2 linked regions of the Homo sapiens genome follow. The protein of the gene in region 2 purifies or fractionates together with the protein of the main gene of each other region. This does not show direct contact. Each region holds a gene or a part of one and is shown on either strand. Other genes may lie near its edges.

Evidence for each region. Proteins that work in one complex are often made in the same cells at the same time.
Region 1: the proteins of CCDC40 (region 2) and KIAA0319L purify together in Homo sapiens (affinity purification with mass spectrometry; 2 studies listed by BioGRID and IntAct, with this or other methods). This does not show direct contact.

What each region holds. Positions count from the first base shown.
Region 1 is NC_000001.11:35,505,002-35,508,922, forward strand, and holds part of KIAA0319L (dyslexia-associated protein KIAA0319-like protein), read right to left. Parts: intron 2,135-3,921; coding exon 1,611-2,134; intron 1-1,610.
Region 2 is NC_000017.11:80,081,642-80,085,680, reverse strand, and holds part of CCDC40 (coiled-coil domain-containing protein 40), read right to left. Parts: coding exon 3,892-4,039; intron 3,806-3,891; coding exon 3,623-3,805; intron 939-3,622; coding exon 693-938; intron 1-692. UniProt on the Homo sapiens protein: Required for assembly of dynein regulatory complex (DRC) and inner dynein arm (IDA) complexes, which are responsible for ciliary beat regulation, thereby playing a central role in motility in cilia and flagella.

The DNA of each region.
Region 1 (3,921 bases), on a different chromosome or scaffold from region 2:
TTCTTTTCCGAATTCCTACTTCAAATATCAGCTTAAACTTTCTTTCTTTAAAGTGGCCTAACCTGACACCTTAGTTTGTATTAGGTGCCTGTTGGATGCTTTCACGGCACTCTGTATTTACCCTCTCATTACCCACATCAAGCTTATAATTATTATAATAATTTAATTATTAGAAATGTAATATTCCTTGCCAGAGTATAAGCCTTGTTAAGGCAGAAATGATATTCATCTTATTTATTGTAATATTCCCAGTATCCAGCTTAGTATAGTACCTCGCAAGTAAATACACAATGACTATGACCGAGCCTTTACATACACTGTGGCTCTGTCCAGAATGTTTTTTTACCACCATTAACCCCACCCCAGTACAATCCTACACATCCTTCAAGAAATGTTAAACATCTCGGAGAAGTCTTACCTGCACATACACACCACTTGCCTGCTGAAGTGAATCACTTCTTGTGTTCTTACTGCATTGTGTACATAAGTATGTTAATGCAATAATTATACACCACTGTAAATACCTATCTTCATGTATCAGTCTCCACTAGATTATAAACTCCCTGAGGGAATGAACCATTCTTATTCACCTTTGTATCTCTAAGGCTTAGAAAAGTGCCTGACATTGACAGTAGGTAGCCATAAATGTTTATGGGCATATTAAATCTAGGATTGTTCTCTAATACTGCACTAAAAAGTTTTTTTCTTAATATTAAATCTGGGTTCCAATTCTAGCTATGCTGCATGATCACTGGCAAACTGTTTAACCTCTCTGGGCCTCAGTTTTCTCACCAGGTAAACAGGGCTAATAATGCCTACTTGGAAATATTGCTATGAAAATTAAACAAAATGATACAGTGCAACAATTAGTACACAGAGCGCTTGGCATGTCATAGCCCACTCTGGCTTCAACTTGATAGAGACAACTAGGACAAAACAAATACAAAAATAAGTCACAGCAATCAAGGAAGACTGAGCAGAGAGTGAGTCATTCCTTTTAATCATTTCCCCAAGGAGATCAACAATGAAGAAACATAATAAGCAGAATAAACTCTACTGGTGGTATCTCCCTTGGCATATACAGCTTGGTGAGAATTCACTCCAGAGACCTCTTGGCTAATGGCCACATCCTGCTCCACAGCCCAGCAGGTCAGATCTTAATCTGTAGTACCAAGCATGGTTAATTCTGACTGGAATAGAAACTACCTCATAAAGAATGTGTTTACAGGCGAGAGATGGAGGAGAACTTGACTGTAACCACATCAATCAACTGTTTTGCAATTTGGCAGAAAATACTGCAGAATGGTTGGTGAATACTAACAGCCATACAACTGTACTTACCTGTAGCCAAGAACCAGCTTAGACTAGATAATGAGCAGCTTTCTGCATTTACCAAAACAATGGTCAGACCTACATAGCATGAACATCTCTAGGGTCAAATTACCCTTTGTACATCTGGGCAGCACCAAAGAAGCTGACACCAAGCAGCTTTATATATACACTCCTCAGCCTATGAGCACTGCCCGCAAGCATCAGCTTCATTGCTCATATATACCAAATGTAAGAGCAGATTTAACCATTTCTCTGCTCCTTATTCATAGCATGCTTACCTCTGCAGAGCCACTGGTAGTCAGACCACCTAATTCGTTGGAGTCATTCACTTTAGAATGCTGTGTCACTATAGGTGTAACTACGTCACTGGGACTACCTCTCTTCTGAAGCTTCCTGATTAAGCTCTGCTGGTCACTGGAAGATACAGCAGGTCTGAGTGCAGCTCTGGGTGGGCTCTGCCTCCAAGATGCCCAGTTCCAACCTAGCCCCAGAAGATGTGGTACATCATCTTCAGGTAGAAAGCCCAAATCATCTGCAGTTTGGAATTTTTTTAAAAACACCAGCATGGAATTGGAGGAGTGTGTCCTAAAAGCCCGGCAGCTCTGGGGCCTGCTGCAGTCTGCCTGAATGCACATCCCTTCTAGCCACCAAAAGACATGGCAGGCAGAGTCCTGGCAGCAGGCAGCCCAACATGACTGGAGAGAGGGGGTTCCTTCAAGAAGCCAGAGGTGATTTTCTCCCCCAGATCTCAGGCCAACTCCAAATTGTGTCTTCCCCTGCTGGCACCTGCTCTCACTGGCATCTAAAAACAAAGAATGAAAACATTTTCAGATGAAATAAAAACAGAGACTACTGCTCCATAAAGAGCCCTGAGAACCAACATTTGAGGTTATTTTGAAGACGAGTTTTTAAGAGGGTGAGAAAGCCATCTAGTGAGTGGAACAAAGGAAGTGAAAGAGAGTGTTTTTTGTCTTCGGATATTTTAGGTTCTAGAAATACTGCTCCACATTCATTAATTGTTCTCCTTCTCAATGAGTTCCTGCCATGGAGACCTTTTACACAGAATGTCACTTCATAAACAGGAAAACAAAAACAAAAACAAAAACAAAAAAAGAGGTATTCTGGTGGAAGCATATGCAGGGAAGTGGCAAGTTGGGAGGAAGAGGGCAGAGTCCCAATACCTGATGACCTCCCACTCACCTCCAAGGTATTTCTCAGGGACAATGTGAGAACTGTGGGACCAGAAGAACAGGTAGCAATGTGAGAACTGTGGGACCAGAAGAACAGTTTCCCCAGCAAACTGGCAGCAACACAGACTGAGTACTCTGAACCTCATGCAGTTAATAGGCACATTCATTCTTTAACCAATCATTTGCCAAAGTCAAATGGTTTTGCATATCATAGTATCAGCCAGAGTGGTAGTCAAGATTACCAAAAATTTTAACCACGAGAGCAATTCTGCTAGAAAGAACTTCCTAATGACAAGTCATGTCATGATAAGAAATAATGGAACCTAAGTACAACAGTGACATGCTATGGGTAACCTAAATAATATGATCCAAAATTCTGGCTAATGTTGCTGATGGATAAACTTTGGACTGTTTTAATTATTTCAGGTATGGCATTGATTTTTCTGAAATAGTATCTCACCTCTGTTTTCTTAGATGAAGTCAAAACTTGTTCTAAATGGAAGTGATTATGTGAGTTCATTTTAAGGTACTGGCTCTATAGGTGTCTATTACCAGCTATTGTCAGGGTTATATAGAAACAGAACTAGGGTGAGGCAAGAGAGGTGCCTCAGGCACAAAATTTAAGGAGGTGCTCACTTTCAGAGTCATTCCAGCAAAGGGTTGGCTCACAGGACCTTCATAGTGAGTGTCTCTTTAAATTCTGTGTTCTGGGCACCTCTCTCCTTACCCTAGTCCTGGCCCTGGGCTTATAACATAAAATATATGTTAGAATTACATAGAAAAAATATGCAATAGAATCAAAACACTGAAGATATGGATAATCATGTCTGCATGTACACACAACTGAAAAGACCTCTAACGAAAGCAACTGACAATCAGCCAAAGCCAATCTGACTCCCACGGAATACTTACTAAATGTCCAACGGACTAAATGTGGAAACTAATCAAAGATAAAAGGAAGGTAAAGGCAAGCTTCTAGAGTATTGAGTCAGGAGCACTATGGAAGCCAGCACTGGCACCAACCTAACACCAGACGAGGCAATTTAGAAGGCCACAGAAAATAGAACTCCCTTAAAAAAAAAGATGAAGAATACCAACTACGAAAAAAAAATCAAGCTACCAACAGATACAGAAATACCCCCTCATTTTTATTTATCCTTCCACACAGGCACCAATAGTAAGAATCTCGGTAACAGCTAACTGAGTGAACAGACTTTGTTGAAATCAAATTGTTTTATCAGTAACTACTATTTTTACCTTTATATCAATTTTCCTTCATTCTTCTCATAACTATTTTCTCATACTTAAGAGGTCAACACAGATGAAAATTATCTGTGCTTTTTTCTAAGCTGATATATTATTTAATTTTTAAAAATGCAATACAACTTCCACTTCTGCT
Region 2 (4,039 bases):
AAAAAAAAAAAAAAGCAAAATTAGCCTTCTTGGGCTCAAAGGTCTTTGTGAGTGGGCTGCAGAGGGCCTGGAACCCTGAGGTCATGAAACTGGACGAAGGCCGAGGGGCTCAAGTTAGCTCTCAGCAGGGCCGCAAGCCACAGACCCCGCTGGAGGAAATATGGCTAAGGGGCTCTGGAGCCCCCTCTAGCTTCCCCATGGTGGGTGCGCTGGCAGGGTGGGTGGGGCCTCTGGAACCCAAAGGGGCTTTGAGAGTACAGGGACCTGGATGACGTATATGGCATCAGGCCTCAAACGCATTAGGCCACTTTTCTTAGAGCAGCAGAATATTTCGTGCTGGGTGAAAATTATTTGGAATTCAGACTTCAGTGGCCTTGAATAACATCTGATTGGACACAGCCGTGCCCATTCCTTTACGTTTTACCTATGCTCCTTCTCGCTATGGAGGCAGAGCCGTGTCACTGCCAGAGAGACCAACTGGCCACAAAGCCGGAATACTCTCTGGCCTTGTGCAGAAAAATGTGACTTAGAGCGCTTGGCACACGTGCCATTTTGTCTGTAAAGCAGGTAGGGAAAGAGGCAGTTCTGTGCCTTCCAGGAGTTCATGTCTGACCGTGGGGGATCTGAGGGGGCTCTGCCCCACCAGGCACCACAGTCAGCCGGGGACCACGTCTCCCTGCCTGGGACCTCACCCCCAGCTCGGAGACCATCCGCTCCAGCTGCTTGTTGAGGAAGTTGATGAGCCCTTGCTTCCTCTCGATCAGGATCGTGCGCCGGGAGATCTCGCTCTGGCTGTTGGTGATGAGCTCGTTGACTTTCTTCACGTCCTGGTCCAGCTCCACCAGGGTCTTCTGGTGTGCGTCCAGCCTGCTGCTGGTGTGTGTGATGTCCAGGGTGGTCTGGGCAATGTCACCGTTGATTTTGGAAAGATGTGTCATCTGAATTGATGAAAAGAAATACCTGTGAATATTGCCCCCACCCAAGGCCCGGGACGAGTTTGCTGATCCACCGTTCCCTGACGGTCGGGATGTTCCTCTGGAGATATTCCAAACGCACAGTCACGAGTGCAGGAGGCTGGATTTCCCACTGTCTCCAGGACCCAGCAAGGGACCTACTTGTTGGAACCCAGATGTTGGCTTTTTACAGAAAAGAGAGATCATGGTATTAGCTTTTCTTATTGATGTGGTTTGGCTGTGTCCCCACTCACATCTCATCTTGAATTGTGTCCCCATAATCCCACATGTCAAGGGAGGGCCCCTGTGGGAGGTGACTGGACCATGGGGGCCGCTACCCCCATGCTGTTCTCATGATAGTGAGTTCTCATGAGATCTGATGGTTTTGTGTGTTTGACGGTTCCTGCTTCACACACACTCTCTCTCCTGCTGCCTTGTGAAGGAGGTGCCTGTTTCGCCTTTTGCCATGATTGTAAGTTTCCTGAGGCCTCCCCAGCCATGCAGAACTGTCAGTCAATTAAACCTCTTTCCTTTATCAGTTATCCAGTCTTAGGTATTTCCTACAGCAGTGTGAGATCAGACTAACACACTTCTTAAATCGTAGCACACACATTGTGAGGAAATGTGAAAATACAGGCCAGGACAGAGAACACATTCAATTGCCTGCAATTCTGACACAAGTTAGCTACCATTCCCATCTGAATCCATTTTTCCTCCCAGTCTTTTCTATATAATTCTCCAAAATAAAAATAGGATCACACCCTACACACTGGGTGCTAACCTGCTTTTTAATCTGGTAAGTCGGGTCTTATGTTCCTGTGCTCTGTAAGCTGTAATGGCTGTGCTGTACTCTATCACATTTGCAGCATAGTTTATGAAGCAAGAAGCAATTGTTAGACACTGGTTCCTCCATGCGTTCTGACCCCTCCTGCTGTCCGGCAGGTCTGAGCCGCCAGTGCTGGCCTCCTCTGTGGGCTCTTTGGAGGCATTAGACAGACTTTGGATCCCTTCTGGCAACGGGGGGTTTATCGAGAGGACGTTTGTGATAATCAGGAGTGAGGCAGTGGCAGTCACAGCTGCAATGGTGTGGCCAAAGCTGCTCTGGGAACAGGGAGATGCTGTCACCACCAGGACAGGGTCCTCTTCCCCAGGGCATGGTTCTAACAGGTGGCCTCGGGCCCTGTGTCTGCCCTGAGCACCCCTGCCCGTCGGCTCCTGCCACACAAGGCCTTGGCTCTCTCACGACTGTGGCTCCTGCCTACCCCAGCCTCCTCAGGGCCATCTGAGCTTCTCCTCCCGCCACGCCTGTGGGCTCCATGTCTCTCACTGGCCACCACGGGCGGCTTCCCAGGAGACCCAATGTCCCCAGGTGGTGGAACCCAGACCCTGCCCACCTGGAGTGGAAGCTTCCGGCATCTGGAGTTGTGTGGCAATGTCAGCTCGCAGCCTCCTCCTCTGCCAAGTTCACCCTGAGATCTGGGCCCCCCAAGGACTCCCTGCCTCCCCCCTCCCCAACTGCCCTGCAGGGGCTATGGCTCCAAGTCCCCTTCAGTCCCTCCCCGTCACAGCCGGGCCTGCACCCCCGCTCCACTCCTGGCTGTTTGTGGTCTCTGTGGAGCCCACCCTGGCTCCCCCTAGGCATCTACACCATCCCTGGATTAACTGCCTGGACCCCGTGGTTGACCCCAGCTCCGGATGGGTGGTCCCGCCCATCCACACTTTGCTCCTCCTCCCAGATATGCCTCCCCACCCCACCTTCTATCAGCCCATGAGGCTTTGAGCAGTTCAAACATCGTGTCGGGGGTACTCTTTTCAGCAGCTGGACTGGCATCGGTTGGAAAATTGTCGTAATAGACGAATGTGTTGGTCCAAGACTCTTTGCTGCCCTCTTCTGGAAACTGGCAGCAAAACACGTATGACCTATCGGGCTGCCCAGACAGGGGCTCGGCGGGGGCCCGGGGGCCTGGGGATTGGGAACTGGACTTGGCTGGTAGCAGCACGGCTGGATGGGCTCCTTCACACCCACCACGCCCTTCAGCTCTGCCTGGCCAGCTCCTTTCCCACCCCTCAGGAGGGCAAAACCGGCAGAGCTTGGCATCGGGAATCTGTCACCCTCCTCTGAGACTAAAATGGGGACTGTTGGGCAGGCCCCACTGCTAGGATGTGCTCTGGAAATGGTGGAGCCTGTGGTAGCCTCTGGGGGTCCTCCAAAGGGGCCTGCTTGAGGCGGGGTGTTGGGGAGGCGGTCACCCCTCGGGAAGAGGCAAAGAAAAAACAATTCAAGTAAGGAATTGTTTTTTCTAAGGACACAAGTCCCCTCCACCCCCACCACAGGTGATAAAGGATAAAGCAAGATCCCAGGGGATGCGAACATGAGCTCACAATTGGGGGTTCCCTGCCATGGACGTCGAAGTCACACTCCAGGTCCCCCCAGGGAAATCAGCCTTTGGCTGGCAGCTGGCCATGCGGTGGCTCACGCCTGGCCTATTTCTAGGTTTTCTACAGTAAAAATGTATCACCCTTACAACCTGAACACCATGGAAAGGAGTGAGCACAGGAGGGCCCTCTGCTCACACTGACTCCGCCCTCTCCGCCTCCAGGACGGCTTGCCCTCATATGCCCAGGCTGCAGGGGGCTTCGCACAGCCCCTCCCTGGGGCAGGGGCCTACCATGTTGGTCTTCTCCTTCTGCAGCCTCAGGATGAGCTGGTTGAAGTATTTGGTGGTCTTGTTGGAGGTCATGTGCTCCTGCAGCTTCTCCCGGATGGCAGCATCCGTCTTCCTCCTGAGCTCCAGCTCGCCCTGGATGGCTTGGCGGATGGCCTGCAACTCCTCCGTGAGTATCATTTGTTCCTGGAGACAAGGAGCCACAGGGTGCACGTGCCTGAAGAGGCACCACCGTGCGCCAGGTGTGACCTGTGGGGCGGGCCCGGCCTCACCAGCTGGTCCTGGCTGAGGGCATCCTCTGTGTCCTGCAGGGTGAGCCTGTAGGTATTGAACTGGCTCTGCAGGGCCACCTGCTTGGTCAGGCACTGGGTGGTGAGCTTCTGCAGCAGTGTGGCTTCCGTCTCTGTCCGGTTCAGGATG